Regions from separate parts of the Homo sapiens genome. Here all the other regions are linked to region 6. Evidence: fine-mapped expression QTL. A gene starts in region 6. Each other region holds a variant in brackets. All regions are shown on one strand. Distances are between the middles of the regions.

What was found.
Region 1: its variant is fine-mapped to the expression of SUSD4 in whole blood (TOPMed, PIP above 0.99).
Region 2: its variant is fine-mapped to the expression of SUSD4 in whole blood (TOPMed, PIP above 0.99).
Region 3: its variant is fine-mapped to the expression of SUSD4 in whole blood (TOPMed, PIP 0.96).
Region 4: its variant is fine-mapped to the expression of SUSD4 in prefrontal cortex (GTEx, PIP above 0.99).
Region 5: its variant is fine-mapped to the expression of SUSD4 in whole blood (TOPMed, PIP above 0.99). The same link has a PIP of 0.9 or more in T cells and blood mononuclear cells.

What each region holds. Positions count from the first base shown.
Region 1 is chr1:223,227,671-223,232,743 of GRCh38, reverse strand. SUSD4 (sushi domain containing 4) reads left to right here. Exons shown (of 9, transcript NM_017982.4): 6 at 3,356-3,547; 7 at 5,006-5,073. Among named protein-coding and RNA genes, the nearest start is that of TLR5, 87 kb to the right of the region's middle. The variant G/A (reference allele first, on the strand shown) is at 2,408.
Region 2 is chr1:223,480,308-223,485,380 of GRCh38, reverse strand. No RefSeq gene overlaps it. Among named protein-coding and RNA genes, the nearest start is that of CCDC185, 89 kb to the right of the region's middle. The variant A/T (reference allele first, on the strand shown) is at 2,532.
Region 3 is chr1:223,187,700-223,192,772 of GRCh38, reverse strand. No RefSeq gene overlaps it. Among named protein-coding and RNA genes, the nearest start is that of TLR5, 47 kb to the right of the region's middle. The variant C/T (reference allele first, on the strand shown) is at 2,240.
Region 4 is chr1:224,355,441-224,360,513 of GRCh38, reverse strand. It overlaps CNIH4 (cornichon family member 4), which reads right to left and starts at 3,635. Exons shown (of 5, transcript NM_014184.4): 1 at 3,521-3,635; 2 at 1-19. The coding sequence starts at 3,589. RefSeq lists enhancers at 2,785-3,285, 3,843-3,982 and a silencer at 3,193-3,562. The variant C/G (reference allele first, on the strand shown) is at 2,365.
Region 5 is chr1:223,512,610-223,517,682 of GRCh38, reverse strand. No RefSeq gene overlaps it. Among named protein-coding and RNA genes, the nearest start is that of CCDC185, 120 kb to the right of the region's middle. The variant G/A (reference allele first, on the strand shown) is at 2,011.
Region 6 is chr1:223,361,607-223,366,679 of GRCh38, reverse strand. It overlaps SUSD4 (sushi domain containing 4), which reads left to right and starts at 2,504. Exons shown (of 9, transcript NM_017982.4): 1 at 2,504-2,623; 2 at 3,220-3,402. The coding sequence starts at 3,255.

The DNA of each region.
Region 1 (5,073 bases), 130 kb after region 6:
ATGCCACTCCGTGCTGCCTGCCTTTGCTCATTAAATGATTGATTAAATGGTTGATCTGTATGGTACAGAAATTCTTGAGCACACCATGGGACCATTTGCCTCGGGGTGAATGCAATGATTTGAACAGTCGTTCATCTTTCAGGCCCAGTGAGAAAAAAATGCTGCTGATAACAAACTTGCATACATTTATGTGGGCTCTTTCATGACATTTTCTGTGCTTTGAAAAGAGTTTTGGTAATTTTCTAATCCTACAGTGGCCCTCAGGGGCTTGTTTAGAGAGCCTTTGAGGAGAAGTGCCTTCCTGCTCTGTGTACCTCTTTTTCTCTTTCATAAAAATGTTAGATATTTAAGGTGTACAACATGATGTTTTGAGATACATCTACACAGTGAAATGACTATTACAGTCAAGTAAGTTAACATAATCCATTTCCTGAAATCTACTCTCTTAGTGAATTTCCAGTGTATAATACAGTATTATTAACTGGAGTCTGGATACTATACATCAGAGCTCTGGGCTTCGTCCTATGGAACTGCACCCTTTTACCCTTTGACCTACATCTTCTGATTCCCTCTACCTCCCCAACCCTGGTAACCACTGTTCTGCTCCCTGGTTTTATGTATTCAACTTCTTTAGATTTCACATATAAGTGAAATCATGCAGTATCTTGTCTTTCTGTGCCTGGTTTATTTCACTTAGCAGAACGTCCTCCACGTTTCTCCATTGTGTCCTAAATGGCAGGATTTCCTTCCTTTTTAAGGCTGAATAATATTCTGTGGTGTATATTGCCTATATTTTCTTTATCCATTCATCTGTCAATGGACACTTGCCATACCCTTGACCACAGAAAGGGGCTCCTGTCCCAGAGAAGATGCCGGCCTCCTGAGCGTACAACAGCGCTGGGGAATGCTCCAGCAGTGCAGGGAAGGGGGCCCCCAGGCAGTCCCGGGGCCACTGGAGACCCCTTCCTTGTGGGAAGAACCAGGAATTGAGTAGAGGAGAAGCAGCACGGAGGAGGGCCTCCAAGGAGAGAAGAGCCCTTACGGCCACATCCCTGGATCTCCCAGGACCAGTTCAACAACGTGGCCAGTGCCTTTTTCTCTCTCCCTGTTCCTCATCAGCTGTCCTTCCCTTTGCTTCCTTCTGCTTTATTTCCTGGAGATGCTCCCAGAGCACCCTGGTGGTAGCAAACTTGAAAAGAGCCCCTGTTTGTGGAAATGCAAGGGGTTGTGTGACTGCATTTGCCAGCCCAGGAGAGACCCTGAGGCAGAGCAGCAGAAAGCTCCTGGGCCTCAGAGTCAGAGCTCAAAGCCTGTCTCTGCCAGTGTCCACCTGTGGGATGCTCACAGCAGCCACCTGACAGCCACCATTTACTGAGCACACCTGGGCCTGCCAGCCTCAGATCTGCCCTGGACCTTCCCTGCACTGCACCAGATCTAGACAGGCTGTCCACCGCAGACCCTGTTTCCCAGACCCCCTTGTCACCTGGCTCCCCACTGGCTTTGTCCAGAGGGAGCCTGGAGGGTGGGCAGGTGGAGAACCAGGCTACTTCTCCCTCACTGTTCCTGCCCTGGGGACATCTCCAGCGGGGTCTGAGTTTCCCCGGGCTCCAGTTCCCGCGGGATAGACCTCCATGGTTCCACCTTCCACTAGGGACCCCAGCAACGAGACCCCTTCATCCCACCAGCCCAGGAGCGGTAGTGGCTTCCTGCTCTCACTAATCTTGGGGTGTTCCTGCTGGCTTCTCCACTTTGCCATCACCTCGTTAAATTCCATCTCTTTAGATACTCAAGTCCTGGTTTTCCCTGAATAATCACAGTTTGTCAGCTCTGAACTAAGCCCTCACCAGCATTTCTCGAGATAGCCCTCAGAGACTCTTGTTGTACAGCTGAGGACCCTGAAGCTCAAAGATGCACAGGGATTGGTTTAGGGTGACTCGGCTGGTGAGTAGTTCAGCCGGAATTCAGACCTAGGCCTGTCTAGAGCATACCTGGGCTTCTACTCACTCCTCTAGTTGCTTCTGTGAGTTTCCGTTTCCCCTTCTCTGAAAGAACCAACAAGATCTACACTACAGTGTTGTTTGAAGGACTAGAGAGTGCCTGTAGTGTGCCTCCAACCCTGCTTCACACGCATCGGGACACCTCCGGCAGGGTGGCCTGCTCTGCAGGGAGGGCCATCTTGTTTTCCAAGTGGCACCCACTGCTGCCAGTGAGTAGTTTCAGTGGCCAGTGTGGAGAGGGCACCTCTTCTGGCCTGTATGGTGGGCAGTGCCTGTTCTGCACTGGCCAGGGTGTTTGGTTACCCCAAGGGAGGGAATCAAAAGTTAACTCTTTTTCGTTTAGGTTTTTTTTTTTTTGGTCAGAATTCTTACTGGTTTCTGTGAGTGTGGGTTTGAAGTTGGCACTGATA[G/A]AATCTGTGGTTTGACTGTTTCTTGAAGAATGTTTAAGCAGCAGCACTGTTTATTTCTGAGTCCTCATCCAAGAATGAGCTCCTTGTGGCATAAAAAGCACCGAACTCCCACTGAAGCCGTCTTTGTGGTGACAGAGATGGAACCGTCCTTACCTCGCAACCTAGAATGCAGTACCAAGATACTAAAGACACTAAAAACAACTTTTTCTTCCCCTAACATGATGGGATATTCGAGTCAGAACCCTAAGGCGTCCTCCTAGGGTAGAATAAGCTTCCATTTGACAGAGGAGAAAAATCAAGGCTCAAAGAGGTTAAGGGATCTGCTTAAGGTCACACAGTGTGGTGTTGGTGGCAGAACCAAGCCTCATGCCCAAGGCACCTAACTCTGGTTGCCCTGGAGGCTGTGCCCTGGCTCTGCAAGCAGAGCTAGAAGAACTGCTCCATGTTCGTCATTGGCTAAGCCTCAGCAGAGCTGTAGGGGATCAGGTTAGGGACACTGCCCTGTGATTTTAATAGACCCAAATTACTACTGTGGTCACAGAAACAGGCTTGGGATAACTATGCCTTTCAGTAAAGATTTTGTACAGAAATATGTTAATTTTATTTACTAGGTTGTCTGGCACATAATAGCATGCATTATTAATACAGTAGCTTAATACTCTCTATTAAATAGGCATACTCTTTGCATTGTAAAACGAACCTCTCTTTTACGATGTACTTCACAATGCCATGTCACAACGGCACGTGCTCAGAATATTACAGCAGGCTTCCATTCCGCCTTCCATGAAATACTAAAAAAGAGACCATCTCTAATGCAACTCAGTAGCCTGGTGATTAATCCATAAGCACATTTTTAACTGAGTTCTCCTAGGCCATTCTTCGTCTTAGGGGCTTCAGACAAAGGTGAGCTTGTGGTTCTGAAACTTTTATTCTCCCCTACTGCCCAAGTCTGTCCACTACCTCCAATGGTGAGTCACGGAGATTTCGTCTGCCACCCGCGGCCTTGTGAGCGCTACAACCACGGAACTGTGGTGGAGTTTTACTGCGATCCTGGCTACAGCCTCACCAGCGACTACAAGTACATCACCTGCCAGTATGGAGAGTGGTTTCCTTCTTATCAAGTCTACTGCATCAAATCAGGTAAGACTGAAGGCCTCACCCTTGGAGGAGATGGACCCTCCTTGGACCATCTGCACATAGTGGGTGGTGGTTATGTACCAAGCTGTATCTCTCCTCCCCCACCCAGTGTCAGGAACAGGATATCGAAACATATCATTGCGGGTCGATGGGGCTGCTGTTGGGCTCTGTGCCAGATGCTTGTAGGTCCTGTTCAGACAGTCAAGAGTATTAACTGTCTGCTGGAGGTCCTTCCATGGATGCTAGGGGCCTAGGGACCCTATTCAGAGGGTCAGGAGTATTAACCTGTCCATTCCCAGGTTAAAAAGCTGACCATCTAAACAGGGTCCCTAGACCCCTAGCATCCATGGAAAGACCTCCAGCCTCCACACTCTTTTTTCTCCCAGCCTTGTCCTTTTCCACTGGTAAGGACACAGGCCTGTGGGTGTGACCAGAATTAGATGCATTGCCCTGGACCCAAGCAACGCATAACTTTACCTTTCTCTTCCACTCAAGGACACATATCAGAATACAGATGATACTGTGGGTAACACCTGCTCTCACTTGTAAAACTATAGGCCATTTGCAAGCTTCAGGGCTTCATAGTTAAAAGCAAATGACTTAATTGCAAACCACCTTCCCCACTGGCCTCAGTGCACCTGGGTAGTGACCACAGGATAGAGACTGGGGCACCAGCACACACCCACTGTCTCCTTCCCACTCTCTCCAGCCCTTTCCAGGCTGGGGATGCTGCCCTGAGCAGTGCTGATGACTGCATGCCTTTCCCCTGGACACAAGGAAGCACTTGTTAATGCCAGGTCTCTGGAGGCGCACACATGATCCTGTGAGCCAGCCGGGGGAGAAGTGCAAAGAGAGTGTCTAAGAGGGTGGTCATGACAAGGCAGAGAGACATTTAAGAGACAGGGTGGCCTGTGCCCAAAGGATAAGTCTCTTCTGGAAAGGTCTGCTCTTGCTGCCCCTGACCTGGCAGGCAGTTGATGGCTAGAGGTGGTAGGGCATGAGAGCTGTGGAACAGGGGTCCCCTTTACCCTCTGTTTCTTGCTTTACCCAACCCCACAGCATATCCCAGAACATTCACAAAGGGCCCAGCTTCCCACTCCCCCACCCCTTGGTCCATTTCGGAGCAACTTCTCCAGGCAAGAGAGATGCCCACCTCTGTTCTCAAGAGGCAGATGCATTATTTAAGCCTGTGCCAGGCCTGCGCCTGGGACTGGAATGTGAGCATGCAGGTCTGCAACCTGGCAGAGCCCATGCTGGAGACAGGTTTTTAGTGTTGGGTGGATCCTGATGCAATTTACATGAGCTACAGGGGCACATGGTATCTCTGCCGAGCCCTGGGGGTCAGAGGCACCTTGCACGCATCTCTTGTGCCAGATGAATCCAGCAAATGAGCCCACGGGGAACCTCGGCACCTCTCATGGTCTGGGAGCCTCACGTACAGCTTTGTTCTCCCTCATGCAGAGCAAACGTGGCCCAGCACCCATGAGACCCTCCTGACCACGTGGAAGATTGTGGCGTTCACGGCAACC
Region 2 (5,073 bases), 120 kb before region 6:
TCCTCAGTAACTAATAAACAAATGCTATATGCTAGAGATTTTACTATATAAAGGATATCTAATTTTAAGGAAAATTCCAAGTAAAATAGCAGAAATTATAATATAGGATGAAAAATGTTACAATATAAACATAGTGGGAGATCCTCAATATTCCTCCCTTCTCCCTTTTTCTTCTTTTTCTGCTCCCAAAAAGAGATCTTGGCATTTCCTTGGTTTTTCTTAGTGGAGTAAGTCCTTTTTGAGGCACTAAACGGAGCCTCTTTCACACCTGAAAAGGGATGGGGGTGTTGGGTTCCCAGGAGAGGATCTGGATCTCTGTGTTGAAGAGGGAGAGTGACTTCATCTTTGGAGAAAAAGGTGTCTTTAGACCCTTTGCATTCGGAGGCTGTTGGACCCCTGGCAATACTTAGGGTGACCACATTTCCAGGAAAGCTGTTGTCCTCTGTGTCCCAAGGCTGGAAGAGGAAAGTTGCCCCACTTCCTGTGTGATGGGTGTTTAGGGAAGGCAGGACATGAAGGCACAGAGGTGGAGGCCTGAGAGACTCCGTGGAGGCTCCTAGGACTGCTGTCCTTAGGGGGATGCCTGGGTGTGGGCCTGAAGGAGGTGAGTACCAGAGCCCTGAGAACTGAGGGAGCCACGGAGCACTATGTGGGCACACTCCTCCCTTGGAGATCAAGGAAGCCTGTACCTGGGCAGCAGTCAGCACTGTCTTAGACTCAGAGGACCAGCGTCAACGGCAGCTGACAGCAAAAAGCAGGGAGGGATACAGGGAGTACCAGGAGAGAGATTTTGGACTTCTCATTCCTCTGGCATGTAGGTCTGAGCTGGCTTTATTTTTCATTTGTAAAAAATAGAATAGATATGACTTTACTTGAGGTCTGAATTTGCAGAGCAGTTCACACTGGTTACCTAAGCATATGCAGCAGGGCTGTGGGGCTTGTTGTAGGGGACTCTCCCCTCCTGCCACTGTCGTGTCTTCCTCAGACATTCATTCATTCATTCACTCAACAAACTATATGTCACAGTTGTTGTCTCAGCTCACTTCTTGTTCTGGAAGCTTCCATGGTTCCCCGTGATCCACTGCAGTAAGGACAACCCTCTGCAGTCTGGCCCACACCTACCCTCATCTTTCAAGTCTAACCTCTCACTCCTTCACATGTACACTTCCTAGTCAGAATATAGACAGACTCTTCCCAGATGTCCACACATGCCCTGGGCTGTCCTGCCTCATGCCCCTGCTAGTGCCTTTCTTCTGCTTGGAATGGCCCTGGGCCCCAGCACCATCACTCACTGTCTCCTCCAACCCCCTCCAAAGCCCAGTTGTTCAACAAGAATCTAAATGACAGAGACCCTGTGAGGACACCGGAAGAGAAGGGCCTCCCTCTCCCAAGCTCTAATGACCAAAGCTCCCCGGAAAGATGTCTCAGAAGCTTGTTTTGAGCGAAGAAAAACTGCAGATGATGGGGAAGGCATCTCCATCGTGAAAGCTTTATGCTAGGAGAACAAAGGGTGAAGAGAGACCACTAGAAGAACACAGACCGTCAGCCTTCCTCCCTCAGTGGGTTTCTCAGCACAGCCTCCTCCAATACTGTTTCATGCTTAGGGTCCCCAACAGAGAGAACTACCCTGAGTACCCCTGCCAGGCTGAGAGGAGGGGAGCAGTCTGGCTGACAGCTGCCTCTGGCTGACAGCACACTGTCCTGGAGCCTGGGGCCTGGGTCAGTGCCTGCTAGGCGGGCAGCAGTCATAGACAGCCGGCGAGGCCCCTCAGCCCTGCAGAGAGCCTTCCAGGTTCTGAGTCATGGATTATTAAACCTAGCTTTTTGGTGTGTATTTGGGGGGTGGGGTGGGGGTTTTGATAAACCACCTGTGACCCTTGGGTGGTTTTGAATCTCTCTGAGTCTTGAGTATCTCTTTGGAAAAAGAAAAGGATGTCACCAGACAGAGTTGCAGGGAAGTCAGCTTTGTACTTCATATTCCACCGGGGTCAGCTTAAATCCATTCACCATTAGGCTTTCCCTAATTCCCGGCTCCGTGGTTATTAAATCTCTGACTTTGAACACCTGCAGCATTGGGTTTGTAGCTCTCTCACGGCACTCGTAGCTGTAAAGTCAGATAGCTGTAAACTCCTGTAGGCTGGAAATGGCTCTGACAAATCTTTGTATTCCCCTGCCATAGCCAATGGAATGAAGTAGAAATTATTCACACTTGGTTGATTTGAAAGCTCACAATATGAACCAACATTTATGGAAGCTTTTTTTCTACGTGGCAGGCAAGCATTTTGCACAGGCTTTTCTCATGTTGTTCTCACAAGGAGACCTCATGGGGCGGGTACTTTGATGAGCCCCGATGACATCTTGGAGAGGTGAAGTAACTTGCCCGAAGTCATTCAAGCAAGCAAGAGGTGCCCTCAGGACTCAGCCCAGGCAGTCTAATAGCAGTCCACCCTCTCAACTTCCGGTGCTGTATGTCTGCTAGTTCATAAGCATGTGATGGTTTCACAACATCTGAAACCCCACCCCAAAAGAGG[A/T]TTCAGAAGGTTGTTTTGAGAGAAGGAAAATTGCAGACAACAGGGAAGACTTCTCCATCATGAAAGCTTTAAGTTAGGAGAAAAAGGGAGACGAAAGACCATTGGAAGGATGCAGACCAGCAGCCTCCGTCCCCTTAACTGGCTGAGCTGCTGGTTTGAGCTATCTTCTGCAGCTTACAGAAAATCAAGCTTCTCCCCAAAGAAGAAATGAAGATAACTACCCAAAAGGCCGATGGCTTTACAGCTTGGCAGACATTGGAATCCCCTGGAGAACTCTTTTTTTGACACCTGGTGAGGTCTGTGGAGAGAAACCTGCAAGGGAGTGTGAATCTTCCCTTGTTTTTTTTTTTGCCCCTGGAAACCACCATTCAACTTTCTGTCTCTGTGAATTTCACTGTTCTATGTACCTCATGTAAGTAGAATCATATAGTTTTTATCCTTTTGAAACTGGCTTATTTCATTTAGCATAATGTCCTCAAGGTTCATTCATGTTGTAGCATGTATCAGAATCTTCTTCCTTTTCAAGCCTGAGTAATATTCCATTGTATGGATAGACCACATTTTGTTTATCCATTCAGCTCTTGATGGACACTTTGGTTGTTTGCACCTCTTGGCTATTGTGAATAATGCTGCTATAAATATGAGTGTGCAGATATCTGTTTGAATCTCTGCTTAGAATTCTTTTGGGTATATACTCAGAAGTGGAAGTGCTGGATCATTTGATAATTCTATTTTTAATTTTTGAGAAAGTTATACCATTTTCCACAGTGGCTGCATTGGGAGGATTGATTGAGCCCAGGAGTTTGAGGCTGCAGTGAGCTGTGATCGCACCACTGCTCTCCGGCATGGGCAATAGAGTGAGATTCTGTTTCAAAAAAAAAAAAAAAAAAGTAGAGTGACGTAGATAAAACACACTTGTCATTGACGGTGGCATTTAGTAAACATTCAGCAGATGCTACTCTCCTAACTGTTCCCCTTTCTTCACTTAATCTCAGAATCCTGCCTTGATACAAAACAGTATCACATGTGTGCACCTAGGGGAGAAGAAGAAGAGAAACAGCTGGAAACGTGGATCTCATTGGATTACAGAGGGCCTTGAATGCCACATAAGGAATTTGGACTTTCTTCTGTGGATAGCTGCAGTAATGGGTTGAACTGTGTCCCCTCAAAATTCATATGTTGAAATTCTATTCCCCCAGTAATTCAGAATGTGAACTTATTTGGAAATTGGGTCACTGCAGATGTAATTAGTTAAGTTAGGATGAGGTCATGCTGGAGTAGGGTGGGCTCTAATGCAGCACGACTGGTATCCTTATAAAAAGATACTAGCACTGAGAGAGCCAGCGCTGGCCTGGGGGAGCACGGGAGGCAGCAGTGAGAGCTGTGTGTTTGGGAGTCAGGAGGTGACTGAGGCCCCACGGCGAGCGTGCAAGTGTGCGTTTGGTTCTCGGTGTGTTGGGCAGCAGGGGAACCATGGGATCCAACACACATTTTTTTTTTTTTTTTGAGACGGAGTCTCACCCTGTGGCCCAGGCTGGAGTGCAGTGGCACGATCTCAGCTCACTGCAACCTCTGCCTCCCGGTTTCAAGCGATTCTCATGCCTCAGCCTCCAGGTAGCTGGGATTATAGGCACCTGCTACCACGCTGGACTGATTTTTGTATTTTTAGTAGAGACGGGGTTTCACCATGTTGGCCGGGCTGGTCTCAAACTCCTAATATCAGGTGATCCACCCTCCTCAGCCTCCCAAAGTGCTGGGATTACAGGCATGAGCCACCGCCCCCGCCCCCAACACACATTTTGCAAGAGCAAACGCACGGAGGAATGTTCTGTTTGAGTGCACTTGTAGCTGTTGGGCTCTGGGCAAACCGTATGAGCCCTGAGATCCACAAGGAGAGGAGGAGTTCCTGGAAGTGGTGGAGGTGAAGGCATTACAATGAGCTGCCTCCCTTTAGCATCCTCAAGCGGCGTCCCGACCCCTTCAAGTCAAAGGCAGACATGTTCAGGGAGCACCTGCTATGAGCTGCTGCCCAAAGAGGTGGATGGGGTTGTCTCAAAAGGTGAAAAGACACAGGGAGGCCCTGCCCACAGGGCCATCTCCTGTGGGCAGCAGAGGCTTGCTCACAGCAGCTCAGGCAAAGAGCTGTAAGTCTGAAGAGCCAAGGGCGCTCTGTGCAGCAGGAGCTGGAGGGAAGCAGTGTCATTAACATCCCTGCCATTTGTCATCATCAAAAGGTATTTCTTAAGCACCTAATTGAGCCTGATACTGTGCTTGTGTTTTATTTTCAGAGCTTGTAAGGACTAAACAATGTGCAAACAAGCAAATCAAATATCCATATAAGGCAGGTTACTTGTTTCATTAATTTTCCTTTTCTCTCTTCTCTTCTTTCTCTTCTCCCAGTTTCGAACTCTCCAGACCTGGCTAATTACAAATGACGTGTATGCACAAAAGGTTATCATGGAGCTGCGGTTCACCTTCCAGTGATGATCATCCCACAGCCCCAACCCACACCCTCCACCAACACACAATTTTATACACATAG
Region 3 (5,073 bases), 170 kb after region 6:
GCCCAGGACTAAGGAGTTTCAAAACTAGGAGACTCCTGGGCAAACAAGGACAAGTTGGTCACCCTAAAACCTTAGGTGGCCCTGTTGCCTCATTTGTTGAATTTCTGTTCTCTGAGTCTCCTTTCATGTGTTTTCTGGGTGCTTGGATTGCTTCTTCTGCAAATTAGCAGCTCATAGTCCTTTAGCATTTTCTTGCTACAATTTAAATTTATCTTTTAAAAGTATAATTAATTCATAGTTTTTCAATGGTTTAAGAGATTGATTGTGTGTTGGAAATACATTTCCTAGTCTGTTGTTTGCTCTTTGATTTTGCTCATGGATCCTTCTCTTATAAAATGTTTAATTTTCATGTAGTCAACATATATCTCCCCCTTTGTTGATGGCTTCTGGGATTTCTAGCTTGTTTAGAAAGTGCTCCTTCTGGCTGGGCGCGGTGGCTCACGCCTGTAATCCCAGCACTTTGGGAGTTTGAGGTAGGCAGATCACTTGAGGTCGGGAGTTCAAGACCAGCCTGACCAACATGGAGAAACCCCACCTCTACTAAAAATACAAAATTAGCCAGGTGTGGTGGCAGAGGCCTGTAATCCAAGCTACTCAGGAGGCTGAGGCACGAGAATCACTTGAACCCAGGAGGTGGAGGTTGCGTTGAGCTGAGATCACACCATTGTACTCCAGTCTGGGCAACAAGAGCAAAACTCTATTTAAAAAAAAAAAAAAGAAAGAAGGAAAGAAAGAAAGAGAGAAAGAAAGAAAGAAAGAAAGAAAGAAAGAAAGAAAGAAAGAAGGAAAGAAAGAGAGAGAGAGAAGGAAAGAGAGAAAGAGAGAAAGAGAGAGGGAGGGAGGGAGGGAAGGGAAGGGAAGGGAAGGGAAGGGAAGGGAAGGAAAGAGTGCTCCCTCCCTCTATGATTATATAAATAGACCCCTAAATTCTGTCCTAATATGTTAATGTCTTATTTTGACAAGTAAATCTTTAAATCACCTAGAATTTGTTTCTACATATGGTTAAAGTAGAATCTCTGTTTGTTTTTCTTAAAGTTGGATAAACAGTTGTACCTGAACAATTGCTGGAACCACCCTTTCTCTCTGACTGAAAATGCCATCATCATATTTTAGATTTCTCTACTCATCTATTTCTGGGCTCTCAGGTCTGTTTCCTTAATACATTGGCCAGATCCGGTGCCAGCAACATACTGTTTTGGTATTGGTTGCTTGAGTCTGAGTTTTATTGTCTATACTAGAACTGGTCCCCATGCATTCGCATTTTCTTCACTATTTTTCTCTGAACATTTGAAATGTATAGTTATTTTACATTTACTTTACAATTATTTTATCTACATAGAATCTAAAATTACTTTATCCGGTTCTTAGAAGTAAAATTCTAACTGCAATTGCATTAAATTTATATAGTAATGTCTTAAATTTAATACATTAGTTTTTTAAGAACTGGTATTTTTTGATGTTACATCTTTCCATACAGAAGCATGGCTTGTACATATCCATTTGCTGAGGGTTTTTTTTAAAATGTCCTTCAATACGATTGTATCATTTTACTTCTGTAAATAGTTTACCTTTTCTTGTTAAATGCATCCTTAGGAATTGTATAGTGAGTGCCTGCTGTTATTATGAATAGGCTATTTTTTTTCATTTCCCTTCTCAAATGTTTATTGTTACCATAAACCAAAGCTTTATATTTATATATTTATCTACCTATCTACCTTACTAAATTCTCTTACTAATTTTAATATTATTTTATTAGGATCTATAGGTTGTCTAGGTATACTCTCAATCATCTGCAAATAAAGACATTTCTGTCTTCATTTCCAATGCTTATTCCAATCAATTCATTTTCATCTTATTGTTATTAGTTAAACCCACCAATGCTGTGTAGATCAATAGTGATGACAATGGGCACTCTGTCTTGATCTTGAATTAATAGAAATGACTTCAGCATTTTTCCATTTAGTAAACTGTTTGCTCTTGGTCTGTAATAAATAGACTTTACTGTATTTAAGTAGTTTCTATCTATTCACACAGAACAATCTCTTAGAGGAAAAAAATATATGTACCTGTCAGATACATAATAGAACTACCAAATATCTATGATATTGGCTACACAAATTGTGAAGCATGAATCATATTTCTATTTGATCTGCCACGGTGAGAAACTCATAACATTTTTGTGGTTAGAAAATTTAAGAAAACCACAGTCATTTTAGAAATACCCAATGCCACTTTCTCA[C/T]GGAAAGAACCCAACCAGGGTGTGTCATCTGCACTCCCACATCACCCATTTGCTGACCACAGGGGCCCTGCTGAGCGCTCAGCAGCCAAGAGACAACCCCCACGGTGGGCTTCCAATCCAGGTGGGTGGCGGGCAGAAGGCAAAGGGATGAGAGACCTGAGGCAAAGGTGGAGTATAGCAGAGGGGACTTATGAACCAGGCCTATATCCCAGCCAGACAGGGTTGGTGGGTTAGAAAGGAGAGGCCAGAGAAGGCCAGAGCACAGTGAGACAGAGATGGGACAACATCTGGCACCTCTGCAGCTGTCACTCTTGCCATTCCGTGATGTCATGTTGCTGAATAGATTCTCTTACTCATAGGTAGAGCTGTGGAAATGAATCCAAATCCCACATAAGCGGGAATGTTGTAAATCCTTTAGTGTTTTCACAGCTGCTAGGAGGCACACCCCTGAGTCGTCCTGGGCAGAGAGAGGTGGGTGTCCCCCTATCCTGTTCCTCATCCTCCTCCTGAGGCCCCAGCGCAGTGTTTCAGTGTCCATTGTCTGATTTGACACATGGGAGAGAAGATCATGGCCCTGTCTCCAGGGAACACAAGTCCAGCACTGAAAGGTGACACAAAGGTGATGCACGCAATCAAACGTTTGGTCTTGGGGTTTCTCACTCACCTGCAAATTGGTGCCCCAAGCCCCCAGCCAGGACAGCTCCTTCCCTTCCCCCTCGCCTGGCTGTGGCTGACACCTAGTCCCAATTGGCAGGTCCACCTGCACCAGCCCCCACCTGCACCAGCCCCTAACTTCCCCAGTGCCCACCTGTATCAGCCTCCACCTGCACCAGCATCTGCCTACACCGGCCCCCAGCTGCACCAGCCTCCACCTGCACCAGCCCCCACCTGCACCAGCCCCCACATGCACTAGACCCCATCTGCACCAGCCCCCACCTGCACCAGCTCCCACCTGCACCAGCCCCCACATGTACCAGCCCCCACTTGCACCAGCGCCCACCTGCACCAGCCCCCATCTGCACCAGCCCCCACCTGCATTAGCCCCCACCTGCACCAGCCCTCACCTGCACCAGCTCCCACCTGCACCAGCCCCCACCTGCACCAGCCCCTACCTGCACCAGCTCCCACCTGCACCAGCGCCCACCTGCACCAGCTGCTACCTGCACCAGTGCCCTCCTGCACCAGCACCTTTCCAGGAACCCCTTCCCAAGGAGAAGGAGATGACAAAAGAGGCCTTCAGAGCACCCCATATGAGGGAGATTCTTGGAAAGCAATTCCTGTTCCCCCTACCTCTCTCATGTCCAGTTTTTCCAGGACAAGCAAGGTCTCACTAGCTTAAATCAACAGGAAAATTCCATCAGCACATTCTGACTGTCTGTGACCATGACCTGGTGCTGGAGCTGTGCCGATACAGGGTGAGAAGGAAAGGGCCCAGAGAGCTGGAATACCTCACCCATACAGGAGCCACCCACCAGGGGACAAAGTAGGTGCCCAGCAAAGAGGGAGGGAGCAGTTCCACCCAACAAGGGGCAGCCTAGCCAGGGTGTCTGCGGGCGCCATGCACCCTGGGAGGTCTTTTCTCCACACCAAGGCTGCTCAGAAAAATCCACAGCCTTGCCCACCGTCAATATGCCACAAAGCACCATGCTTCTCATCTCCCCTGACTTCTCTTTCTCTTCCTCTTCCTCCCCCTTCCTCCCCTTCTTCCTCTTCCTCCTTTTCCCCTTCATTTCCTCCTTTCTCTCTTCTTATTTCTCTTCTTCTGCTCTTTTTCCCCCTTCCTCCTCCTTCTTTATCTCTTTGTCTTTTCTTTTTCCTTCATCCTCTCTCTGCCCCTACACTGCCTGCTGACAGGATTTGCAGCTATTCGCTTTCCATCCATCCACCCCCACCACCATCTTTCCAACAAATATTTATTAAGCATATATGTTGTACTGGGCATGTAAAATCACATTTTCTATTTACAATGGGAAATCAAATAGTTCTACTTTGTTTATGAATAGAACTTTAAAATTGTTGTTTGATAATTTCTAGCCTTTTCAAACACTTCTGCCTCTCTCCTCCCCACATTTGTGGTTTTAAACTTCTTATTTTGAGATCATCGTGGATTCATATGCAGTTGTAAGAAATAATGCAGAGATCCCATGAACACTTTACCTAATTTCCCCCGATAGTAACATCTTGCAAAACTGCAGTACGGTATCACAGCCAAGACCCTGGCATTGATACAGCTAAGAAACAGAACATTTCCATCATCACAAGGGGTCCTCAAGTTGCCTTTTTATAGACATACCCATTTCCTTCCCTTGTCAATGCCCTCTCCTCCTCCTTAACTCCTGCCAACCACCAACCTGTTCTCCATCTCTATAATTTTGTCATGTTAAGAATGTTAAACTAATGCAGTCACGGACTGTGTAGCAGCCTTTGGGGATTGGCTTTTTCCACTCCGGATAATTCTCTGGAGATTTATCCAGGTTGCTTTGTGTATCAAGGCTGTTTCTTCTCATGGCTGAGTAGTATTTCATGGTATGGATGAACCAGTCTGCTTAATCATTTACCGACTTGTTGAAGGACACGGGGGTTGTTTCCAGTTCTTGGGCTATTACGAATGAAGTTGCTGTAAATATTCATGTGCAGGTTTTTGTAGGAACATAAGATAAGTCTTCATTTCTCTAGGACAAATGTCCCAGGGTGCAATTTCTGGATGATATGGTAGTTGCACGTTTAGTTTTTTAAAGAAACTCCCGAAGTTTTCTAGAATGGCTGCACCATTACATTCCCACCAGCAATGTGTGAGTGATCTGGTTTCTCTACATTCTAACTGGCATTTGATG
Region 4 (5,073 bases), 990 kb before region 6:
AATCAGACAATGTAATTATCTGATGATCAAGATAAGGAATTATTATATTTCTTTTATAATAACTAAGTATTTAAGTTTCAGAAAGCAATCCCAGTTACAAGGCAGAATTAGATTTGACTTGAAAAAAATGAGTTGTTTCCTAAAGTTTGCTCATTAGACAACTCAATTTTCCCATTCATGTTCCTTCAACAAATTATTTTACAAAATAATCCTATTTTGCTCAAATCTAATCTGACCCAACCAGAACATTTAGTTTGAGTTCTTCAAATGTAAAACAATGGCTATTAAAAAAAAAAAAATGGGAAATATCCCAGCACTTTGGGAAGCTGAGGCAGGAGGATCGCCTGAAGCAGGAGTTCAAGATCAGCATAGGCAACATAGCAAGCCTCCATCTCTTTCACCCAGGCTGTAGTGCAGTGGCGCAATTCCAACGCACTGCTACCCCTGCCTCCTGGGTTCAAGCAATTCTTGTGCCTCAGCCTTCCAAGTAGCTGGAACTATAGGTGCGCGCCACCACCACACCCAGCTAATTTTTTGTATTTTTAGTAGAGACGGGGTTTCACTATGTTAGCCAGGCTGGTCTCGAACTCCTGGCTTCAAGTGATTCACTCACCTCACCCCCATCTCTACAAATTTTTTCTTTTTTTTTCATTAGCCGGGCATGAGCACCTGTAATGCTAGCTATTAGTAGCAGTACTGCTAAGGTGAGGCAGCAAAATGCCTAGAGCCCAGGATTCACGTTACACTGAGCTATAATCACACCAGTGCGCTCCAGTCTGAGCAGCAGATTTGGTAGGCACTTGTAGTCTCAGTTACTTGAGAGGCTGAGGCAGGAGAATCGCTTGAACCCAGGAGATGGAGGCAGCAGTAAGCCAAGATTGCGCCACTGCACTCCAGCCTGGGTGACAGTGAGACTCTGTCTCAAAAATAAACATGAAAATAAAATAAAGTCAAACTCATCACTTTCTCCACAGATTGATCTTCCTCCAATTTGTTTTATTTCTGTTACTGACACAAGTATCACTTGCCCAGGATCAAAATATGGAAAGCTATCTCTGCCTTCTGTTTCATATATCATAATCACTCATTTGTAGGTCCTGGCAATCATTTCTTCTAAATACTACTCACATATTCCCTCCTTTCACCTGCCCACAACCAGCACTCTATTTGAAATCCAGACGACCCTATCCAGTTGGTTTATCTTCCAATCTTTCTTGTTTCCAACCCACTCGGCAGATTCATCTTCCTAATAAACTACCGAAAATAAAAATTTTCAATGGCTCTCTATTGCCTGCAGGATAAAAGTGAAAGACTTCCCTCCCACCCTTAACATTCAAGCCCTCCAAAATCTGATGTAATCCTGCCTTTCCAACTTAGCCTTCTACTGACGCCAAAATCAACCATGTGCTCCAGATGGTCTATTCGTTAACCATAGCCCAGAAATCCACGAACATACCTGTCTCTGCACCTTCGCTCTTGCCAGTGTCTGATTTGGAATATTCACCTCTTCCCCTTCCTGTAGATTTTGTCCACAGTTCAAAGTCCAAGAAAACTCTTATATCCTATATTAAGTCTACCGTGACCATTTTCCACCTCCTATCCCTAAGTTAGTGCAACTATTCTAAAATACAGAATATGCTGAATTTCATCAAAACACCCCCCGAATGTATTTTAATGTAATGTCTAAGTCAAACATTCCACCTACCATTTCTCTAAATGCATAAATTGGTGTAAACCAGGGCTATTTAAAATTATCAAGCCTGGTTTTCCAAACTGCAAAAAGAAAAAACCCAGCTACATTTCTGAGCATAAGCTCTAGTTCAGGGGTGTCCAATCTTTTGGCTTCCCTGGGCCACACTGGAAGAAGAATTGCCTTGGGCCACACATAAAATACACTAATACTAATGATAGCTGATGAACTTAAAAAAAAATCACCAAAAAAGAATCATAATGTTTTAAGAAAGTTTACAAATTTGTGTTGGGCCACATTCAAAGCTGTCCTGGACCACATGCAGCCCGTGGGCCGTGGGTTGGACAAGCTTGCTCTAGTTCCTTATATCACAAGAGGGGCATAGAGGTCATCAAAACTTAGGCAAGTGATGCTGCCCTTTCAATCAGCTCCCCAAACCTACTAAAACTCAGAAATCTTGTCGTTAGATATCATCAAAGTAAAAACTGCTGCTCAATTGGGGAGGGTGGGGACACGAAGGCAGAGCAATATTTACTGAACATTAGCTATGGGGCAGGCACTGTGCTAGGGTGCTCAGCACCATTCTCATTGTGCATATCTAGGAAATAAACATTTCCTATTTTAAAGATCAGAAAACTGAGGCTTAGGGAAATAATGTGCAAGCAAAGAGCTAG[C/G]TGACCAGGAAATCTGATTCCAAATTTTGTCCCTTTCCACTACAACAGGATGCCAGTCCACAATGAAAAATGAAGCTGCACTGAACATATACTCTGTACGACTATCCTAAAGCCCGCATGCTCTAGCAAACAAATGGTTTAATCCGATCAGAAACAGGTACATGTGATTTCCAAGAAAGGAAGCTGAAATGCGGAGTTCCTCATACGTTTTTTCTTATATTTAATTACTTAAACCTGGATGGTGCAATACAACATTGGGCAACAACTAAGCCTAGATGCTTTGTCAAGAGATGGGAAGAGTTGTAGCCGACATGGCTACTGCAGTGCTAAATTCAACCACCATTTATTGCTCTGGAAAACAGTTTGAATACTGCAACTTAAGTTTTAACATGGATCGATAGAAAAATTTAAAAGCTGAGAAACGATTGGGAACTACAGCAGATGTAGTTATTGAATTTACAGATCTGCAACCACCGGGGACAACCAAAATAATCACTTTGTAGACAGTTGTTAAAACAACTCCTTTCCAACACTCACTACAAAACGGCACAGTGAAGGAAGCAACTTCGCTCCTTTGGCGAATGAGTCAACTCCTGGATGTGAAAGGTCCCTGCAAGTACTAACACCCGCCAGAACAAAGGGGCGGGTGCCGGGGGTGTTGCGTGGGGAACAGGAGGAGGCAAATGGCCCGCACTTATCCCGGCACCCGACTGTCGCAAGCGACCGCCCTTGGGACCCCCAATATCCGACGAAGAGCACGGCGCAGGGCCTCTCCCAGAAAAACAGCGACGCTTCTCTCCCGAGGGCGGCCGTGGCTCAGGCAGGGCTGGTCCGGGCGCCGCGGGGACGAGCGGAGAGCAGGCGGGCAGGCCGAGACGGGGCGCGCCCGGAGAGGCCCACTCGGACCCGAGTGAGGGGCGGCCGGCAACCCAGGCAGGGCAAGTGCGTGCAGGGCAGCAGGGCCCGTCGGGTAGGGCAGCCAGCCTCTCCTACCCGCTCCGGGGCCCGCGCCACCGCCCCGGCCAGGCCAGCTCCCAGGGAGCCCACGCCCGCCGCCGGGCGCCTCCCTAGTCCCACACACCTGCCCGGGTGCCCAACTGGCCCACCCTCAGCCGTGTCCCCCGGCAAGGCGTTCGCCTGCCTCAGGCAAGGATACGAAGTAGACCGAGAGGAAGATGAGCGCGCAACAATCGAGGAGAGAGAAGACGAACACCACCGCCTCCATCCTCCTCCTCCGTCGCCGCCGCTCCTTCCGTCAAACCCGCTCGGATGCCCCGACCCACCCCTGATAGGCCCTTGCCGGGGCTGGCTGAGGCGTGTGGTCCTCGAATCCTGGTGTGGCATGCCGGGAGTTGTAGTCCATATTTTAAAAAACTCTACGGCCCTAATTCTGACGCATGCTGGGAATTGTAGTTCATTAGTACAAGTCCATATCAAAGAGGTGGGCAGGGCCTCTTTCATAAATCCGATTATTTCCAGAAATGGAATTAATCAACAAGTATTTACTCAACGCTTTTCTTTTAAAGAGCTGGGGTCTTGCTCTGTCGTCCAGGCTGGAGTGCAGTGGCGTGATAGAGCTCACTATGACCTCGAATTCCTGGGCTCAAGCAATCCTTCCACCTCAGCCTCCCGACATGCCCAGCTAATTTTATTTTATTATTTCTCATTTTATTTTATTTTTTGAGACAGGGTCTCACTCTGTCGCCCAGGCTGGAGTGCAGTGGCATGGTCACAGCTCACTGCAGCCTCTACCTCCTGGCCTCAGGTGATCCTCCCACCTCCGCCTCCTGAGTACCTGGGATTACAGGAATGTACCACCACGCCTGGCTAATTTTTTGTATTTTTAATAGAGATGGGGTTTTTGCCATGTTGCCCAGGCTGGTCTCGAATTCCTCGGCTCAAGCGATCTGCCTGCCTCAGTCTCCCACAGTGCTGGAATTACAGGCCTGAGCCACTGCACCAGTCTCTACTGAACGCTTTTAATCCGGATATCCAGTAGGATGTATTTCCCATGTGTGAAATTTTCTTTAGAGTTGGCTCTAGAACCATTGCATTCCCTGACTTAGGATTTGTAAGGGGTTTTCATCTCAAAGCACAAATCTAACTTAATGCTCCTGGCTTGACTTTTGCGATTTGCCCTTCCCTTCCTGATTTCAATTTCTCCAGAGATTTCACAGTCCTTTGTTTATCCTCTCCTACAGCAATGTTTCTCTCCTCTCTAGATTTTAAGATCTTTAAGAAGTGAATACGATGTCTTACTCATCCATTCATTCATTTAACAAATACAGTTGTATTTGCAGGGGCTACTTTCCAAGACCCCCAAGTGGATGCCTGACACGATGGATAGTACCAAACCTTATGTGTACTATGTTTTTTCCTATATATACATACCTATGATAAAGCTTAATTTATAGATCAGGCACAGTAGGAGATTAACAAGTAATAATAAGATAGAACAATTATACTGTAATAAAAGTTATGTAAATGTGGTCTTTCTGTCTCAAAATATCTTATTGTACTGACCCTTCTTTTTGAGATGATGTATGATGATAAAATGCCTATGTGATAAGATGAAGAGACAGATGCAGCCTCTCCAGTGATTTTTATATTTTTCAGTCCAAATCTATTCTTACATTCATGTAACTATCCATTACTTGCAGTAAGTGGCTTGGTATCACTCGTTTTAGGGAATCCCTCACTGAAGTCTTT
Region 5 (5,073 bases), 150 kb before region 6:
GTTCTGCTTTAGTCTCTCACACTCTTCAAAGAATCAAAGGCAGTAATCAGTGCGATCTATGTCACCATAAGTTCCCCACATCAGGGCTGTTGCAATATTTTAAGTGGATTTCATTGCTGGTGATTTAAAAAACACATAAATGGCCGGGCGTGGTGGCTCATGCCTGTAATCCCAGCACTTTGGGAGGCCGAGGCGGGCAGATCACGAGCTCAGGAGATCGAGACCACCCTGGCTAACACAGTGAAACTCCATCTCTACTAAAAATACAAAAAATTAGCTGGGCATGGTGGCGGGTGCCTGTAGTCCCAGCTACTTGGGAGGCTGAGGAAGGAGAATGGCGTGAACCCGGGAGGCGGAGCTTTCAGTGAGCAGAGATCACGCCACTGCACTCCAGCCTAGGTGACTGAGCAAAACTCCGTCTCAAAAAAAAAAAAAAAAAACACACACACATAAACACATCTCCTGTGGTCTGCATGTGGCAATGGGGAGATCAAGAACAGGGACAGGTCTCTGCTGACATTTATTTCTCAGTACACCACAGGTGCCTCCCTACCAGAGACCTGCTTTCCTGGCATAGATATGTGTGTCTCTGCCGCCAGAGATAATTTTTTCTGCCATCGATAGCATTTTATATATGTGACAATCACTTACACGAGGAGTTATTTATGTGGCACTTTGCAAAGTGCTTTAAAAATACAATTGCTATTCAGTTATTCCTTACCAATCCCTTGTCAGGCAGGCCATGTCTCCACATCAAGCTTTAGAGCATCCTGAGGCATAATGCTTCGTGCTTACGTCCCACCAGAAGTTGCAAGTAGGAATGTGGGTTGCCACCCCAGGGCTGCCCACAGGCTCTGGGTATCTCTATTTGTGCTGGAAGCTTTCTCTGCAGGAGTCATTTCCAATTCAAATGAGGGATTTGCAGGGAATGGAAGGGCCCAGAAGTCAGGTAGCTGGTGTTTGGTCAGGGCATAGTGCTTAGGACACCCCAAGGCCCTCCCCACCTGTGCCCAGAGTCCAGGAGAGCTGTGGGGCAGAACGGCTGGTCCCTATGAACAATGATTTTCCTGAAGACATTCTTCCAGAATGGTCTATGGGGCTATTGTTCTCATTTAGATACTCACTGACTACCCAGAACCCAGACAACAATGGGTCCTGTCCAGCCCCTCCCAGGAGTAGGCATGAGGGAGGTAGGGAGGGTGTCCCTGGTCCTTGAGGGCCAGCTTTGCTCCTGACACGTGGTTGAGCCTGGGAACAGGCCCAGGGGCCCCCATGAGGGCAGGCCAGGGTGGGATTGGAAGGAAGTGGTAGGAGGCATGAGCCCCAGCCCTTACAGCAGCAGTTGCCATCTTCCCCGTGGCTCTGGGACTTGGCCTCTCTATGGGGACAAAGAACAGATGGCTCTGAGCAAGCAGGAGAGGGAGGAGCTGTGCATCCTCAGAGGGCTCAGCCCCACTGGCCAGGGTGGCCACACTCCCGTGTGGGGAATCCCGGGAGGGGGTCCCCTGCCTGCCTGGTCTGCCTGAGCTGACAGCCTCTGAGTTGGGTGGAGAGAGAGGATAGTGTCCACACAGTGAGGATGCCCAGCCAGCTGCAGCCCCCAGGAGCCCCGAGGCAGTGTGGGGAGGTGGCGGGGGAGGGAAGCTGGGCAGAGACTTCCCGTTCCAAGATGCACCACCCCTGCACGCCTCATCTTGTCTGATGCTCACAGCAGCCCTGTGCAGCCAACGTTATTAACTCCATTTTACAGATGAAGAAACCAATATTCAAAGTGGTTATCAACTTGTCCAATATGATACAACTAATTAGGAGTGGAGAGTGGGCTCATTAGCTTCTCCAATGAGCCAAAATACCTGTGTGTCTCCCTCTGGGGCTTCAGTTTCCTCAGGTATTAAATGAGTATCTTTTGTATTTCTTCCGGCTCCAGTGGCATGTGGCTTCCTGGGAGGCACCCGGCATTCACCTCAAAATTATCTGTGGCAAAGCCCCTTTCTGATTTCCGTGCTTGAT[G/A]TGATCTCTAGTGAAGCCTTTACCTTTTCTCTGGTTTCCTGGAAGAAGCTGAGTGTACAGACAGAATGCTGGTAAGAGGCCACGGGGCCACTGAGATCAGTGAGTTTTTGTCACAACTGCAAGTTGAAGAGGCTGTGACATTTCAGTGAGTCCCCAGCTACATCTTGAGGAAAAGGGAGTGTCCTGGCCCACAGGTCCCTGCTGGGGATGGGGCTATCCAAACGTCTGATAAAGTTTGTCTCTGAACTACTGTTCTCTTCTCTTGAAAGCCATTTGGTTTTAGCTCCTCTAAAGGGCCCTGTGTGAAGCACCTGTTTTAACTCAAGAGTGTTCTCCTCAATTTCCTTGGGAACATGAACAAGACCCTTCTATTTCCAGATCCGAGGTCAAGACTAGCAAAGGCTCTCATCTGTGTGGGGACAGCTTTGCTCCTGGCAGTGGCTCTTCTCCTGCAAGGGTCTTCAGGTTTCCACTGCCAGGAAAGTCAGTCTCTTGAATGACTTGAGAACAAGATAACAACAAAACCTGGAAAAGGCTCCCTTACTTGTGGTATGGGTTTGCCTGACCAGCCACCTCCTGGACAAGAGGTGGGCAAAGGGGGACTGGCTCTTGGTGCCTGTGTAGGAGGCTTCTATATCAAAATTGGAAATACCCATTAGGAAATTGAGATTGATTGAGTGAGCACTGGTTTGCACTGGCTCTTGGATGTTTTATTTCTTAGCTTGTGTTTGCTGAGCACCTGCTGTGCCAGAGCCTTGGCCTATGGCTTTAGAAGAGGGCAGGGTCTGGGTGTTGTGGCAGATATGTTTGGTTTCTGAACCAACAGTGTTTCTAAATCTCCTTCTTCCTTTGTGGCTGAGAACGTCACTCTCAAGATAGAAGCAGCTGCAAATGCCATTTCACTTTCCAGGCTTTCTCAAAGCTGTGGAGTGCATGTCAAACCCAACGTTGACTAAGGAACCAGCAAGGGAAGCCTTCTAGAGAACTACTAGGGAGGATTTTCTCTCTGGCAACAAAAGAAATGTAAAAGAGAGGCTGTCCTCCCTTCCTTCTGATGGGCTTGTGTGAGAACCAGTGGTCAGCGGCCATCCAGCTACCTTGAGGGGACCAGATGACACTGAGGATGGCAGAGTGCAAAGAGGGGAGGCAGCAGGTGCCTGACAACTTCATCACACAGAATTAACCAAGCCTAGAACTTCCTGTTTCCAGACAGCTCGACCTGTGAGATAATAAATGTCCTTATTGTTTAAGCCATTTCAGTTGAAATATTCTGTACTCGCAGCCAAAAGCATCCTAGGTGATACACACAGAAAACAGAGTCTTCCCACGCAGGAGATTAACACCCAGGGGAGACAGGAAATGCACCCATCAGGCATCTGAAGAGCATTTACCAACCCATGTTGTCCCCATAATTTACAGCTGGGTCTTATTTTAGAAAAGAGATGCATTCATAGAAACAGTGTGTGATACAAATTATAATTCTCAATTAATTTCATAAATGTTTCTGAGATGTGGTTTCTACAGTCTTAATTGATCTTTAACAATAGCTCCTAACACTTTGGAGTTTCTTTCTTCTGGTTTGACAAGTGGTAAATAGCTGGAAATCCCTACCATTAAAGTAAAATTATTTTGTAAACAAGGTATCCTTTTTACCAAATGAGTATTCATTCTTTAATTTACCCTTCTGGTAATTTCAGATTTTGGAAATAAGGGTCCTCAGGAAAGCCTCATCTGAATACCAGGCTCTGTGACCATGTTTATTATTCTCAAAGACCAGAGAAGGGTAAAGCATGTAATTGTGTCTGCACCTTATTATTCCAAGTGTTTATTGTAGCCTTAGCTGTGATTGGTGTAATGAGATGATAAAATGGTGCTTGTGGCTGAAACTCCTGGATAATACATCATTCAAAGGAAGAGGGAGATTTTTTGCAGAATTTACCATGGAGCTCTCCACAATCCCATCACATACATCTCAAACCCCTCATCCTTAGTGAGGACCTCAAAGGCTTTGGAGTTGAAAATTAGGAAGTGGATTTTCAGAGAGAGTCCTGGTGAGCCCCGTGGGGGATTGGTTCACCTCCTCCGCCTCTCTCCTGTTCAGAAGCCTGTTCCCGGATTCCCTTGTTTGCAGAGTGTTGAGTATGGTTTAATTCTGCCAACAAGTGCCTTGAAGCTAGATTAGGAAGCCGGAGTGGAGGCTGAGCCATTCTTCCTCTTCCAGCATAGTGGCAGGTGTATTAACTCTGGCCAGCATGAGTTCTTCCAGTGTATTTTTTTCCCAGCCACTCTTTTGCCTCAGGGCTGCTGAGCAGCTGTAAACATCAGCAGCAGTTTCTGAAGTTTTTTGACTCCCAATTGCAAAGTTAGAGGGGACAGCCTGCCTGACTGCCCTCACTCTGACACCAATCGCAAATTCAGGAGGTTCCAAAAACTCCTGAAATTATTTTCTAGAAGTCCCCACAGAACTCATGGAAAGCTGTTAGACACCCAGTTATGATTTATTACAGGAAAAGGATACAGATTAAAATTGATCAACAGAAGAATCCAGAAATATTCCAAATGCAGAGCTTCTGTTCTCCTCTTCCCAAGGTCAGGATGCATTAGTCTTCTGGCATCGATGCATGACAATATCCATGGAGTATTGCCAACCTGAGAAAGTTCTACTGTTTCATCTTTATAAATTAAAGTGACAAGCTGGGTGTGTGCCTGTAGTCCCAGCTACTAGGGAGGCAGAGATGAGCCCAGGAATTCGAGGCTGTAGTGAGCCATGATTGTGCCACTGCACTTCAGCCTGGGTGACAGAGATAGACTCTGTGTCTAAAAATTAAACAAAACAAGTGGGTTCTATTTTCCTATATGATAAGGCATGGGAAGTACATCCTTCTTCTCCTCAAGTCAAGATGGAAAAATTTGAAACAGATCATCCGGAAAGTTCAATATGGTTTCCCTGCAGTTTGGGGGACACATTTGACCAGGGTCTGAGTCTCCTTGAAGCACAAGTTTTTGCTGCACCGGGATCGGCCTGTACTCCAGGGGTCCGCCAGGTCAAATGATGTGGAACCT
Region 6 (5,073 bases):
GATAGCATTGGGAGATATACCTAATGCTAGATGACGAGTTGGTGTAGCGCACCAGCATGGCACGTGTATACATATGTAACTAACGTGCACATTGTGCACGTGTACCCTAAAACTTAAAGTATAACAATAATTAAAAATAATAATAATAATAACAATATGTTATGCTGTAGTTGCCCTCCAAATGCTTGTCTTCTTCAGCTGAATTAATAGAAGCAAGTTGTTTAAAATACAGAAAGCAACAGTACCGGCCTGTACTGGTCAGAACCCACAGAGGGAAAGTAGGGCCTCTTTCTGGAAACAAACTTTGATTGCTGGGGGTGGATATCATTGAGAAACTGGGTCAGAGAAAGGCCACAGGCTGGTGAAAAGTCTGGGAATCGTCGCACTGAAGGAAATGGCTATGCGTGACCCAGAGAAGAGAAGACTCAAGGGAACACGAAGCCATCTCCAAAGCCATGAGATGCTCTCTTAAGAAAGAGGAATTCTATTTAGCTGCGTGGGCCCACAGAGGAGAGCCAGAATCAGTGGGTAAAGGTTTCAGGGAAGTAGATTTCAGTTCAATATAAGAAAGACTTTTCTAAGAGACCTGCTGGCAAATATAAACAGGCTACCTTGATGAGTATTCAGTGAGGCTGAATGACCACTTATTAGAAATGTCAGAGAGGAAACTCAAGCATAGATCCCATGTTTGGATCAGATAAACTTGAATGTTCCTTTCAGTCCCAACATTCTCTGTTAAAATTAGATTGTACTCCAGCCAAAGAACAGATTTCAATGGCACTTAGATATATCTCTTATAATTGTTAAGAACATGTGCATGGTCAACAAATATTTCTGACCGTTGTTGATTTGGTGGATATTTAAAAAGATTTAGAAAATTTACTAAGAAAGAAAAATGGAATAAATATACAAACTGTAGAGGACAGTCACAGGACCTTGGGAAGGTGGATGGTCCCCTACTAAGATTTTGGGGTCCCAAAGTACAAGCTGTAGCAAAACTGGACTTGTGCTAGTCAACATCTTGTTTATTTTGTGCAAAGCTGCCATCTCAATTTCACACACACGCAAAAGCAAAAAACAAAATAACGGAGCTTGACTTATCTACTAAAAGCTAATCTATCCTGAAAGAATGTGTTAAAATTACTCCCAGTAAGAGCTGACACAGTATAAAAGCTGTAATTTCCCAACTACCATCAGTATGTGAGATTTTGGGAAAGTCGATAGAAGCAAAGGATGATTTAGTAGCTGTATCAGGAACATAGTTTTCATATCCACAAATTGCTACAGAATCATGGAGTGTCACTGGCTCTAAAGCGCTGCCGGTGGACGCCACCTCATTAGCTGACACCTCTTAATCACTGTGGCTGGAATGTGGGCTTCCCTATCTTGAAACCGACCGCGGGCGATCAGAGCCGGCGGCGAGTGAGAGCTGCAACCACTGCGGGCTGAGCTCCGACACCAGAATCGGCGCAGAGACAGGGGACCGACCAGGCCAACTCTCTCCACTTGGGGCTGGGAGGGCAATTACCACCGACCCCCTTGGCTTCCCATCTACGACCCCGGAAGCCTCCCCTCCTCCAGGTACCCAACCTTCTGCGTGTCACCAATCACCCGCTACCCCCGCCTCCCCGCCCCCGGGAGCGCCTCCCAGGCCAAGGCTCCGAGGGCCCCGCGCATCTCCAAGACCGGACAGGGGTCCTCACTCGCAACACCTGCGGCTGGCAGAGGGAAAATACCAAGGGTGTGGGGGAGGGGGAGAGTGTCTCTCAGCCGCCTCAGATGGTCCTTCGGGCTCCCTGGGGACGCGCAGAGCTTCGGCGGAGATGGGAGCGGGGAGGGGTTAACGCGGGAAATTAAGAGACTCGGGCAATTGGCGGTGCTCAAGTTAACCGGGTCTGTGGCGAGAGTTCTGGGGTTGGGAGCTGCCGGCCGCGCACTCGCCCCGGGTCTGCAGCCACCGCCGCGGCGGTAGTTCTAGGGCGGAGCGCTCTCCCGCGCCGCGCCGCGGGCTGGGGGCACCAGAGGCCGCGCGGAGGCCGGGGCGGGCACCTGAGCTGGCGCGCAGCCGGGGCAGGGGCTGCAGTCCAGCGCCGGGGAAGGGGCGACCGAGCTGCGTGCGTGTGCAAGACCGGCCGCCGGCGCCTCGCGCCCCGACAGGTGCAGGCGCGCGGGCTTCCCATTGGTCGCGGCGGCGGGCCCCTTTCCCCGTCCCCGCCCTCGCCAGTCTCCGGCCACGCCGCGGCGCCGGCTGGGTTGGCAGAGGCGCGTGCTCGCGCGCCCGCGCACCCCTCGCCCCGTCCCCGCCCCCCCACTCACCCCGTCCCCACCCACTCCCTCTCTCCGCGCCGCCGCCGCCGCGCGCTCGCGAGTTCAGGTAGCGGGCGCGCGGGCGCCTCCGCGGGGGCGCGCGGCCGGGCTCCCGTCCTCCCCCAACACCCGCCCGCTCGGGGGCGCCTGGGGAGGGAGCGCGCGGGCGGGGGAGCTGGAGCCGAGCGCCGCCGCCGAAGCTTCCGTCTCGCTCGCTCGCGCAGCGGCGGCAGCAGAGGTCGCGCACAGATGCGGGTTAGACTGGCGGGGGGAGGAGGCGGAGGAGGGAAGGAAGCTGCATGCATGAGACCCACAGGTAAGACCGACAGTCCCGGAAGGGTCTTCCATTCCGAGGAGGCGCGCGCAGGCCGGGGAGGGGGAGTTGGTGCCTGGTGCAGCTCCCCAAGGGAGAATTTTTTTTTTTTTTTTGACAGCGCAGAGAAATCTCACTGGGGACTGGGGCAGTAGGATCGATCCCAATCCCGAGGAAAACCAGAGAAGTAGCTGGGGGAGACGGTGCCACATTGTGAGATTCCCAGAGTGAAATGTATAGGCCCAGGGAAAAGTGTCTTCGCGGCCCCGAGACGCGGGGAGGCTCTAGACTTTCCTGTGGTGGGCACAGCTGCTGAATCCCGGGGACCGGCGCGGAGCCAATGTGCGCTAACCCCTGCCCTCCCTCCTGTCCTCCATCCCCCAGCACGCGCAGCATCCCACGGCGGCTGTTACTCAGTGCACCCGGCTCGGGGGAAGGCGGGGGACCTCGCCGTGGGAAAGGGGGCGGGGGCCGCGCGGGGGAGGAACCAGGATGGAGCCTGGGAAGCCGAGGCGCCGGGTCCCAGAGCGGAGGAGGGGGAGCGTGGCCCCCGAGCCCGGACAGACTGGCTTATTGTGGTGTTCCGCTTCTGGTTGCAGACTCTTGCAAGCTGGATGCCCTCTGTGGATGAAAGATGTATCATGGAATGAACCCGAGCAATGGAGATGGATTTCTAGAGCAGCAGCAGCAGCAGCAGCAACCTCAGTCCCCCCAGAGACTCTTGGCCGTGATCCTGTGGTTTCAGCTGGCGCTGTGCTTCGGCCCTGCACAGCTCACGGGCGGTGAGTGACCCAGCTGTGGTGGGAGGGCCTGGGGATGGCCCAGAGGGGAGAAAGAGCCTAGCTGCCAGGACAGCCCTGCACCCCTCCCCCATACACCCAGACTTCAGGAGGATCTGACAACGCGAGGGTGCCTGCGTCCCAGCCTATGGCCGCCCTTCTCCGAAACCGCTGGAGTTCCCTGAAAATTCCCATGTGGAGCCCGCACAGATTCACACACCCACATTCTGTCTGGAGCTTCCCACCAGCCTCCGGGCCTGGCTTCTCCCAAGGAAAGACAATAAAGCCTGGCCCATTATTCCCACTTTGGCCAAGGAAGCGGGGGCGGGGGGGGGAGGGGTGGGGGGTGGGGGCAGTGGGGAGTGGTGTATTTGTGGACCTCTTGCCAATGCCTTCAGCAGATAGAGGTCAGATTTCAGCCTCTGGATTTAAGCAAGAGTTTAAGAACCACCTTTGAGAATGTGAAGGGTCTGGAAACGTGGTCAGACTGGCTGCGGGGCAGGTTTATTTGAAAGTTAACTTTCCCTTCCCCTGTGTGTGCAGCATGTATGTGTATGTTGGGGGCGTGGAGGAGGTGCAGAGGTATTCTTTCAGGTGTGCCTCTGACAGATTGCTTTGCTCATCGAGGTATGATTTCAGGGAATAAAGTCAGTTGCTCTTCTATGAAGTAGAAGTTAGCTGAAATAAAATTGATAGCCTCAGCCTCCGTGGGCGGCTAATCTATAACATATTTGGTTCTGGGGGAGGGGTATCTTTTAGTTGTGGTAGAGGAAGACAGATGGAGTTCCTGTCTGAATTTGAGAGCCTAGTCTCCCTGCCTCCACTGCTCATTGCTGTCCATCATTCCTGTCCATTGCAAACGTTCTCTAGAGCTTGCTGATGTGGACGTTAAAAGGAGCTGAGATACTGTTAATATATAAATAAATTATCTTTGGTTGAAAAGCAAGTATTGACTGATGTAAATAAACCATTTTAGCGTTTTAAAATATTGCTGTTTCAGAGAATTCAAAGGTGAAAATGGAAAAAAAATGAGTGAAAAATTAGCAAAAGTGGAGGAGAGGTGTAATAAGTTGGGCTTTAACACAGAGTAATCAATAACCCAGGCATTCCACTTAGACATCTGAAAGATGCCCAGAGTATAAAGGTGTTTATTGCAATGTGCATATCTATCAAAATTAGTGAGAAAACACTTGCTTTGGGTGGACATTGGTTTTTATTTTTATTTTTGTATTTTTTTTTTAAGAAGGAATAACTTTTTGGATGCTTGTAGTTTTTTATAGAGATTTCTCTGAGGCAAGCTTCCTCTTCATGGAGGAGAAGGTCAAGTGTGAGGCCAGGCCAGCACCTGTGTGCCCTGCCAGGGCTCTGGTCACAGCCTCTAATCTGCCGTGGACACCAGCTCTGCTTCACATATGAGTGGGAATAGACGGGCAGAACAGTATTGCGTGGATCTGGATCATTTCCTCCCCTCCTCTCTGCTTTTGCCTCCCAGTTCTAGCTTTCATTCTCTCAAACCAGGTCCACATGATTTTCCATCTTCTTGGTCCATTTCTCTTATGTAGATGACAGACTAGTTAATCAAGGTTCATTTACATTTGTCTTGACTATTGTTATTGGATGGGTGAGGTCTGAGCACAGCTGAGATTTGTTTTGTGCTCTTGGTTCTGCTTGGTC